Homo sapiens: one gene and its partners. The main gene of each other region encodes a partner of the protein of the gene in region 2 in a complex. Each region holds a gene or a part of one and is shown on either strand. Other genes may lie near its edges. The genes, in order: GTF2H5, POLR2G and GTF2A1.

Evidence for each region.
Region 1: POLR2G (region 2) and GTF2H5 share a complex: the UniProt entries of both Homo sapiens proteins name them as parts of the TBP-based Pol II pre-initiation complex.
Region 3: POLR2G (region 2) and GTF2A1 share a complex: the UniProt entries of both Homo sapiens proteins name them as parts of the TBP-based Pol II pre-initiation complex.

The regions. Positions count from the first base shown.
Region 1 is NC_000006.12:158,188,727-158,192,383, reverse strand, and holds part of GTF2H5 (general transcription factor IIH subunit 5), read right to left. Parts: intron 408-3,657; coding exon 227-407; 3' UTR 1-226. UniProt on the Homo sapiens protein: Component of the general transcription and DNA repair factor IIH (TFIIH) core complex, which is involved in general and transcription-coupled nucleotide excision repair (NER) of damaged DNA and, when complexed to CAK, in RNA transcription by RNA polymerase II.
Region 2 is NC_000011.10:62,764,481-62,767,268, forward strand, and holds the end of POLR2G (DNA-directed RNA polymerase II subunit RPB7), read left to right. Parts: intron 1-701; coding exon 702-752; intron 753-859; coding exon 860-925; intron 926-1,172; coding exon 1,173-1,244; intron 1,245-1,762; coding exon 1,763-1,796; intron 1,797-2,013; coding exon 2,014-2,027; 3' UTR 2,028-2,230; downstream 2,231-2,788. UniProt on the Homo sapiens protein: Core component of RNA polymerase II (Pol II), a DNA-dependent RNA polymerase which synthesizes mRNA precursors and many functional non-coding RNAs using the four ribonucleoside triphosphates as substrates.
Region 3 is NC_000014.9:81,210,807-81,214,463, reverse strand, and holds part of GTF2A1 (transcription initiation factor IIA subunit 1), read left to right. Parts: intron 1-3,657. UniProt on the Homo sapiens protein: TFIIA is a component of the transcription machinery of RNA polymerase II and plays an important role in transcriptional activation. TFIIA in a complex with TBP mediates transcriptional activity.

The DNA of each region.
Region 1 (3,657 bases), on a different chromosome or scaffold from region 2:
AAGCCAAATTACAGCCAACTGTTAAAGCTTTTTTTTTTTTTAAATTCTATGGTAACAAAATCAGTTCAGGGGCTTTTTTTCTGAACAAATGATCATGATCCCTCAGTCTTTCCCGTGGCATGCTCCTAAAACAACCCTCTATGTCTAATCAGTCACCTAAGATATTGAGTGGCAAGTCTTTCACAGTTGCTGCTTATAATTCCTAAATGGTCCATATTGAGTATTTTCATTTCTGGGTAAGGGAAAAAGCATTTTGGTCCATTAATTCACCCACTCGCTCCTGGAGGACATTAACCAATTCTGCTATTACAAAGACGTGAGTGTCATCAATGTCTTGAATGATGAACTTCTTCCCCAGGGCATTGGACTCATCCAAGTACAGCAGAAACTGCTTCATGGCAGGATCACTGTAAAGACAAACACATGATTGTAAGACAGCTTGTTGTCAAATCACATCACAGAGACTTGAGCAATTAAATGTGAACATGTAGAATTTTTAGAATGATTTTTAAAGTTCTGTTACTCAATCCCTCACTTCCTCTCTGCCTCAAGTGTTAACAATTTATAGACATGGCTTCATTTTAGAACTATTAGTGTAAGTTGGCCGGGTGCGATGGCTCACACCTGTGATCCCAGCACTTTGGGAGGCCGAGGTGGGTGGATCACCAGGTCAGGAGATCGAGACCATCCTGGCTAACACGGTGAAACCCCGTCTCTACTAAAAATACAAAAAATTAGCCGGGTGTGGTGGCGGGTGCCTGTAGTCCCAGCTACTTGGGAGGCTGAGGCAGGAGAATGGTGTGAACCTGGGAGGCAGAGCTTGCAGTGAGCGGAGATCGTGCCACTGCACTCCAGCCTGGGCGACAGAGCGAGACTCTGTCTCAAAAAAAAAAAAAAGAACTATTAGTGTAAGTTGAAGAGGCAGAGGCCAATGGCAAGATTTTTAAAGAATAATTTGTCACTAAGTGGAAAAAATAAAAGAATATTGAAAGCTTTGTAGTTAGTAGGGCCTAGAATCACAGCTTTCTTAACTGATTTAAACACTGAATTTCTTCCTTGTCTATGCCCATTACATCTAAGGAACCAGTAGGTGTTCAATGTTTTACCAGTGACAAATTAACTTACAAAACCAGTTAAACAGTCACTTTGGTCAGGCAGGGTGTATATCAAGAGTCATACCTGGATTCAACCCCAGCTTCATCACTTACTTGTGTGACCTTGAATAGAATAGGTACTTAATCTCCCAGAGCCTCTGTTCCCAACCTCAAAAGTGAGGCTACATAACAGAATTGTTTACGGAAATTAAAGGAGATAATGTCAAGGACAGTGCTTGGCTTGTAATAGGCATTCAAGGAAAGAGGTCCAAATTCAATTTTATTAACTTGTGGTTTTTGGTTTGGAAAGAATAGGATAGTCATAAGGGAAAAGAGGGATACAATTTCTTCTCGGGCAGTACAGATTTACAGCAAAATGTCTCTTTCATAAAAACCTTGAATCATGACAAAGGACACTCTTTAGATCTAATACACAATGTGTTTAGCAAAAAATGAATATAAAAATGTCAAGCTGCACCACAGATTTTTGCAATTCTTGAGAAAAAAATCTCATATAATCTTTTGGTGTCTTGAGAAATGTCAATATCAATTGTAAAGGTAACAATTTAATCCAAAAGATGTCACTATAATTTACTGAAAACAAGAAAAATAAGATTTAAGTACAAGCACAGGTATTAACTGATGCTAACACGGGATTTACTTCTATCCCTAGATGAGTATGAGCCTCAGAACTGATTTGGGGGACTTTGGGTTTTACCAAGTGACATGATTTAACTTACAAACTGACTTAAATTTTAACTGTAAGGATCATATTGGCTGCTGGGTTGAGAAAAGACTGGGAGTGGCAGAGGCAAGGATGGAAGCAGGGGACCCATGAGGTGACATCCAGGCAAGAGATGATGATTTTGATGTAGGTGGTAATAGTGGAGGTGATGAGAAGTGGTTGAATTCTAGATATATACTGACATAAAACCAACATAATTTGCTAATACTGGACATGAGCTTTGAGAAAGAGGAACAAGAAAACTCCAAGATTTTTCATCTGAGCAAATGGAAGACTGGAGGAGATTTTTACTGAGATAAAGAGGAATGTGTAAGATCTGCAGGTAAGATCAAGTTTGGTTTTAGGGTGGGCATGGTGGCTCATGCTGTAATCCCAGCACTTCGAGAGGCCTAGGCTGGAGGACTGCTTGAGGTCAGGAGTTAGAGACTAGCCTGGACAGCACAGTGAGACCCTGACTCTACTAAAAAAAAAAAAGGTTTAGTTTTTGATGTTATATTTTGAGATGCCTACTGGCCCCTGAGTGAAGAAGCTGAGTAAGAAGTGACCACCGAGGTAGAAAGAAAACCCAAAGAGTCCTGAAAGCGATGTGAACAAAGGCTACTCAGGAAGTGGGAGTGATCAATTCTGTCAAAGGCTTATAGGGTATAGCAAGGGCTGAAAATTGATCCCTGGATTCAGAAAGTCACTGGACCTTGGCAATAGCAGTTTTGGTGGAGTCATAATAGGGAAAGCATGACTGGAGTGGGTTTCATATGGGAGGAAAGAAATTAGAGACAGTGAAGAGAACCAAGTCTTCTCTTTACTGAGAAATTTTGCTACAACGACCAGAAAGGTAGACTGGAAGCTAGGAAGAGGTGTGGGACTCTGAACAGATGGGAATATCAACAGACCATAGGTCTGGCGAAGTTGAAGAAATGATGGAGTGAGGTATGAGAGGGAGTGAACTGGAAAGAGGAGGTGGTGGTCAGAGTCAGATGCCTGAAATGAGACTGAAGAGCTGGCACGAGGGTAAGGAAGGATAGGTCTAGCTACAACTATGTGAATGAGTGGCTGTGATGAGGTGGAGGACAAGCTCAGTGGAAGAGGAGGCCAGGGAACTGGGAGAACAGGGTATCTAAAGGACTACCCACACGGATACTAACATCACTAAGGATTTGAGAGAAGAGCTACTGAAGATAGTTTTTTCAAGGGAAAACCTTCAGGACAGATTGGGGTGTCTGTAGATGATTATAAAGAGGAGGGTTGGTGGGTAGTCCACTCTGATGATCTGGGATTGATAACTGGGGGTTTCTATGGAAGAGGGAGGGAGAATTTCTGGAAGTGGCAATAATAAGCAAGGTACTGATCCTGTTTCCTGACCCAATGGTACAAGAGGGTGCCTTTGTAGAGGAAAAAAGGCACCACCTGATAAGGTGGTGGGAGAAGCAGTGAGCTCAGGACAAAGTCAGGTTTTGTCACAGCAAAAAAGGAAAAGGTGGGTGGGGGAAGGAAAAAGGAAAGTTCAGAGAAGAGGCTGAGGCTACAGGGCATCCTGCTGCTGCCATCTCACTATGTCCCAGAGGGCAAAGTGGAAAGGATTGCGGTGGGTAGGTGGGGGAGGGTGGTGGGTAGGAGATGGTGAACAGGGCCATAGATCATGAAAATGCAAGAGACAGAGATAGCTTGGGAGTCTGTGGTTTATTGGGTGACTGAAAAAAAGGAAAAATCGGCATATAAGGCTTAATGAGAATGAGGATCTCCGGGATGACACTGACATGCAACTGAATGGCAACAACAGCTGGTGACAGGAGGATGAATGGGGTATTTTACAAACAGAGC
Region 2 (2,788 bases):
TACAAATGAAAGCTTAAAAAAAAAGAGAAAAGGGCTGGGTGCGCTGGCTCACACCTATAATCCCAGTGCTTTGGGGGGCAGAAGTGGGAAGATTGCTTGAGCCTAGGAGTTTGAGACAGCCTGGGCAACATATCAAGACTCTGTCTCTACAAAAAGTTTTTAAAAATTAGCCTAGCATGGTGGTGTGCACCTGTGGTTTCAGCAACTTGGGAGGCTGAGGTGGGAGGATCGCTTGAGCCCAGGAGTTCAAATTTACAGTGAGCTGTGATCGCACCACTACTTTCCAACCTGGGCAACAGAGTGAGACCCTGTCTCAAAATTTAAAAAGCAAAAAACAAAAACACAACACTTGAGGGGACAAAGAAAAGGCAAGATCACTCTTTTGTTTTTTTTTTTTGAGACAGAGTCTTGCTCTGTTGCCAGGCTGAAGTGCAATGGTGCAATCTCGGCTCACTGCAACCTCCACCTCCTGGGTTCAAACGATTCTCCTGCCTCAGTCTCCTGAGTAGCTGGGATTAGAGGTGCACGCCACCATGCCCGGCTAATTTTTGTATTTTTAGTAATGACGGGGTTTCACCATGTTGGTCAGGCTGGTCTGAAACTCCTGACCTCGTGATCCACCGGCCTCGGCCTCCCAAAGTGCTGGGATTACAGGCGTGAGCCACCGTGCACGGCCGTAAGATCACTCATTTTTTTTCTAGGTTGGACTCTTCACAGAAATTGGGCCCATGTCTTGCTTCATCTCTCGACATGTAAGTCTGGGCACACTGGGTGGGGCTGAGGAAGACAGATACTCATTCATCACCATCTATTGAAGCATCCATTTAAAGTGCTAACCTAGATCTCACTTTCCTTTCAGTCCATCCCTTCAGAGATGGAGTTTGATCCTAACTCCAACCCACCATGTTACAAGACAATGGATGAGGTGAGTGGACAGAAAGAAGTCAGGGAGACAAGGAGAGAATCAGCCATCCTGAGGGAGAATATTGGCCTGGGGATGGCTGAGTACAGATGGTCCCCGAATTACCATGGCTTGATTCATGATTTTATGACTTTACGATGGTGTGAAAGTGATGTGCATTCAATATGCCCCCGGGCTTACAGTGAAGTGATTGTGATGTAACTTCTCATAAACTGAGGAGCATCTGTACACTGTTCCCTCCTCTCCTCAGGATATTGTGATTCAGCAGGACGATGAGATCCGCTTAAAGATTGTGGGGACCCGTGTGGACAAGAATGACATTGTGAGTCTTTTCCCCACCTCTCTACCTATACCAGGTTGAGCTGAGAACTGTCGATTTCTTTTTTCTTTTTTTTTTTTTTTTGAGACGGAGTCTTGCTCTGTCACCCAGGCTGGAGTGCAGTGGCGCGATCTCGGCTCACTGCAAGCTCTGCCTCCCGGGTTCATGCCATTCTCCTGCCTCAGCCTCCCGAGTAGCTGGGACTACAGGCGCCCGCCACCACACCTGGCTAATTTTTTATATTTTTAGTACAGACAGGGTTTCACCATGTTAGCCAGGATGGTCTCGATCTCCTGACCTAATGATCCACCCGACTCGGCCTCCCAAAGTGCTGGGATTACAGGTGTGAGCCACCGCGCCTGGCCGAGAGCTGTCGATTTCTTACCACCCACAGTTTCAGGGGGTTCTGTGCTCTTCTGCCAGGAAGAAGGGATGGATGGGCAGAAGGCCTGGGGCTGCAGGGTGGAGGTTGGTTCTGTGCTCATCTTGGCTTCACTTTCTTTTTACCATCTTTCTTGCAGTTTGCTATTGGCTCCCTGATGGACGATTACTTGGGTGAGTGCCTGATCATAGGTGCTGGGGTTATTGCCTGGAGAAGGGATGTGTGGGGGTGGGGAGTAATATAGGATTCAATGCCCAAATCAGAGAGACAGAAGAAACTTTCATGCTGTCTGCTTGAAAGATCCAGGACATTTGCCTTGGGATGAGGAGTACATGGTTGTGGCTACCCTAAATTCCGGTTCTAACTGATATGCTTTTTCTGGTTTCGCAGGGCTTGTAAGCTGAGCCTGGTGGCCTCCTACCCTTGGTCCTACTCTAGGAAGTGTGATTGTCACACTTATCATGTTGTCCAGAGGTCCAGTCTGGCTGCTGTTGTGGAGGCAAGGAAGGCAACTCATCCCAGAAGGCATCTGGTGCTTCTTGTAGCTTAACTACTGCCTCCTCATTTTTCAGTATGTGTTCTAAGTATAAAAAGTCCTTGGTTCTCATGGAAGTGTTATCTTCTTTTTTTTTTTTTAGCAGGAACAATAACTCTTTAAAGAGGCTGTGGAGTTGGCTGCTTACTAGCCCCTCTTTTTCTTAGACTGATGCCTCTACTAGCCTCAGCCACCCAGGGGAACTGACTAACCCATTTGTCCAGGTTTAAAGGTGACCTCACTGAAGTCAAGGCTCTGATGTTGGGTCTTTGGCTTCCAGCAAATGATACCATCATTAGTGGCATTCTGGGTCCTGATCTAGTTCCAGAGTGTTTGCTCTTCTCCTGCCCTTAAAAGTAACCAAGAGCATAGCTGGGAAAGAAGGGAGAGGAGACAGCAGACAGGGAGAGATGAATAAGAGGCTAGTAATGACACAGACTGTAGGATCTCAACACAGCCTTTCCTAAGTTGGGTATATAAACAATAGTATATCACTATACTAAACTGAACTGAAGATGTAAAAGGGCTCACAATCTAGTTAGGGTGACAAAAAATGTATGAAATGCCTACAGGATTAAAGAAACATGCCAATTTTCCCTGGCACTATACCTCTGCAATACTATTTTGTCT
Region 3 (3,657 bases), on a different chromosome or scaffold from region 2:
CCGTGTTAGCCAGGATGGTCTCGATCTCCTGACCTTGTGATCCCCCCACCTCGGCCTCCCAAAGTGCTGGGATTACAGACATGAGCCACCGCTCCCGGCCGGGTCTCAGTAATTTGATAAATCGTCCTGAGATGAAAGAGTTTTAGAACTGCTGGTTTAGAAGTTGATTATTAGGCTCCTTTAAATCTATGTACAAATAAATAATCACAGTTAATAAATGTTAAGGAACATTTGTTGTGGTCTCATCCATTCAGCATAGGTGTCGAGGCTGCAACTTGGCAACCAGTTGCAAATCTTACCTTGATTGCGGTGATGAGGTAGGTCTTGGCGTATTTATTAATAGGTATCTACAGGAAACTTCTCTAGAATTTTCAATAAGAATATTCCTGTGTGAGGAGTTTGAGACCAGCCTGGCCAACATGGTGAAACCCTATGTCTACTAAAAATACAAAAATTAGCTGGGCATGGTGGTGCGTGCCTGTAATCCCAGCTACTGGGGAGGCTGAGGCAGGAGAATGGCTTGAACCCAGGAGGCGGGGGTTGCAGTGAGCCGAGATCATGCCACTACACTGCAGCCTGGGTGACAGATCAAGACTCTGTCTCAAAAAAAAAAAAAACAGAAAAACCCAAAAATATTTCCTGTGTGAGGTAGGAAAAATATATAGGTGTGAAACAGATGAGCAAATATTTATTTACCTTGAGAAAAATTACAGGTTACTAATAGTGAAGAGTAGGTATCTAAAAATACAAGTGTAAGAGTGCTAATTCCGAGACATGAGTTGGAAGAAGAACAATATAAATTGTTCAAGTAGCATGAAGTAACTGAGGGATGTGAATAATAAGAAAACAAGCTTCTTTTGATTCCTTAGTGTAACGTGGAATGAGTTTTTTGCAATTTATGTTATACTTTTATAATGGTTGTCCTTGTAGTTTTGTGACCTTGTATAGAAGATGCAGCATTTTTAGGTGTAGAAAATCAGTTCTAAAGATGTTAGGTAATTTTCTCTAGGTCAAACTAGTGGTCAGTCTAGATTGTTATCTACTCTCGCTTTTCACAATGAAAATCTGGAGAATTTTCCCTATCGTTAATAGTAGAATCAAGACATTCTCTCGAAGAGAATGAGCATCTTTGAGACCAAATGTTTCCACCTCCATTTTTGTTATATATGACTTTTTTAGTACATATTTTATAGGTAACACACTGATTTTTAGTTTAATGGTTAGTTTTTAAATGACAAAAAATGTGACCTACTCAATTTTGAATCCCCAGCTTCTACCACGATGTCTGGGCATATGTGGTTGGCATTCAGTAAGTATTTGATTGAAGTGTTTGATAATAGATACGGCACCTGAATCTAACTGAACAAAATAGTGTAATATTCTTGTTGTTTTTAAATGGGCCATACTCTTCTATCTGGGTTGTATTGGAGTTAAAAATAAAACGGTTAGACTAAAATGAGTTTGTTATTTTAATTCTCTGCACTGAATTTCTTCAGGATCTCATTAGAATTTCTAGAATATGCCCTAGATTTAACAGCTGGACAGCCAGCATTGTCCAATAGAACTTTCTGCAGTGATGAAAGTGTTCTGTACCTGTGCTCTTCAGTATGGTAGCCACTAGCCACATGTGCTTATTAAGCACTCAAAATGTGGTTGGTGGAACTGAGGAACTGAATTTTTATTAATCTAAACTTAAATCACTACATATGGCTAGTTGCTGCCATATTGGACTGCTCAGGTTTAGACATTCTTGCTTAATAAAACGAACTTTAATTTCATATTTTATGGTTTAGAAAGCCTGTCATTAGCTCTAGCCCCTCTCCCTACTTTCTGGGGCCATTTTACAAACTTATCAAAAGCTTGTATAAGGCTGTAAAGGAGGCAGTGGTGAATTAGATTGAGAACAAAGATGAATGATGAGAATGCATGTAATTTGAGGGTTAATGAGGTAAGCAGAAAGGGAGATGATAAGAATATTTCAACCCAATCTTTGAGGTTATCTTTTGAAACACTGCAGGCCTACTTTAATGTGTAAACTGTGAGAGGTAGAAAAAACACAATAAAATACAGCCCTGGTTTTCAGTAAATCTATATTCGAATGTAAATGTGTTTTGGATTGGTGAGTGTCTGTGGGTGGGAATGACACTGTAGAAATTCTCTTCAAAGTGAATGATAAAATCAACCTGATTTCTAGATTTTCCAACCTACCTATGTCCAAATGTCAAGTACTGTGGGAGATATAAAACATTTTCTCTCTTTTTAATAAAACAAATGAGAAGAGTTGCCTCAATTGGAAGTATATCTGAAATTCAGTTTATCTGCCTCTGGTTCAGATTTCTCAACACTGGCATTATTGACATTTTGCACTGGTTAATTCTTTGTTGCAGGGGCTGTCCTATTGATTGTAGAATGTTAGCAGCACAACTGGCCTCTGCCCACTAGATGCCAGTAGCACTCTTCAGTTGTAACCAAAAATGTCTCTAGACATTGCCAGATGTCGCCGGGGGCCAAAATCACCTCTGGCTGAGAACCACTATTCTAAATATACTCTAGTTATATATATATATATATATATATATATATATATAAAGTACTTGATACACTCTAATTATGTGTAAATATTTGGACCATAAGTTGAATAATAATCTACTATTTCATTTCATTTATTCTTAGGGAAAGCTCTGTTTCTACAGCATTATTTCTTGGGAACCTAGAAGTGTAATATATTTTATCCAGGAGCTAGATGTTTTGTGAAAGTAGGAGAATCCTTCAGAATTTCTAGCCCACCATGTTGCCAGGTTTAGCCACCTAACCTCTGGGCTTGTGATGTGACGGGCTGCAGTGAAGGTCTCTGATGTGGCCTGGAGACATTTTCTCCATGGTCTTGGGGATTAACAGTAGGGGAGTGATAAGGGGATTAACTTGGGGAGCAGTAGGTCTCATCACATTTTATAGGTGAGAAAGTAGACTTGGAATGTGCTTTGACAAGGTCGTTTAGCTAATAAATGGTAGAGCCATGAACCTAGCCCTTTTGCCTCTATGTGACATATACAGTACTTAGCAGTAAGCAGGAAGGTAACAGAGTTTTGACTAGATCTTGGGTTGTTGGTGAATGGCACCTGAGATGGTTTTGATGGTCGGTGACCTGCTCTGATAGCAGCAGTCTAGTTTAGAGACTAGGAATTTGGACTAGTACTGGGATTAAAGGGAGGCAAGTGAGGGTCCTGGGGTACAGAATGCAGAGACATTCACTCTCTAGCCCTGACTGGGACATTGAAGTCAGACCACCTGGGTTATATCCCTATTCTGTCTGCCATTAGAGTGATCTTGAATAAGCTACCTAACTTCTTTCTTGTCAGATTCTTTTTCTGTAAAAGGGAGATAATAATGTCTATCTTATAGGATTTTTGTGAAAAAACTAGTTTGTACATGTATTTATAAAGTACACAGAATTTAGTAAGTTTTAGTTATTAGTCAACACAATATACAAATGTATACCTGAATCATTTTGGGAACAGAAGATGAATTTTCTCCATGTAATTTCAGATACCTGGCAAAGATTAGTATTCCTGATTGTTTTCAATACTATGTTAGTGGCTGGGTGCGGTGTCTTGGGTGCGGTGTCTCATGCCTGTAATTCCAGCACTTTGGGAGGCC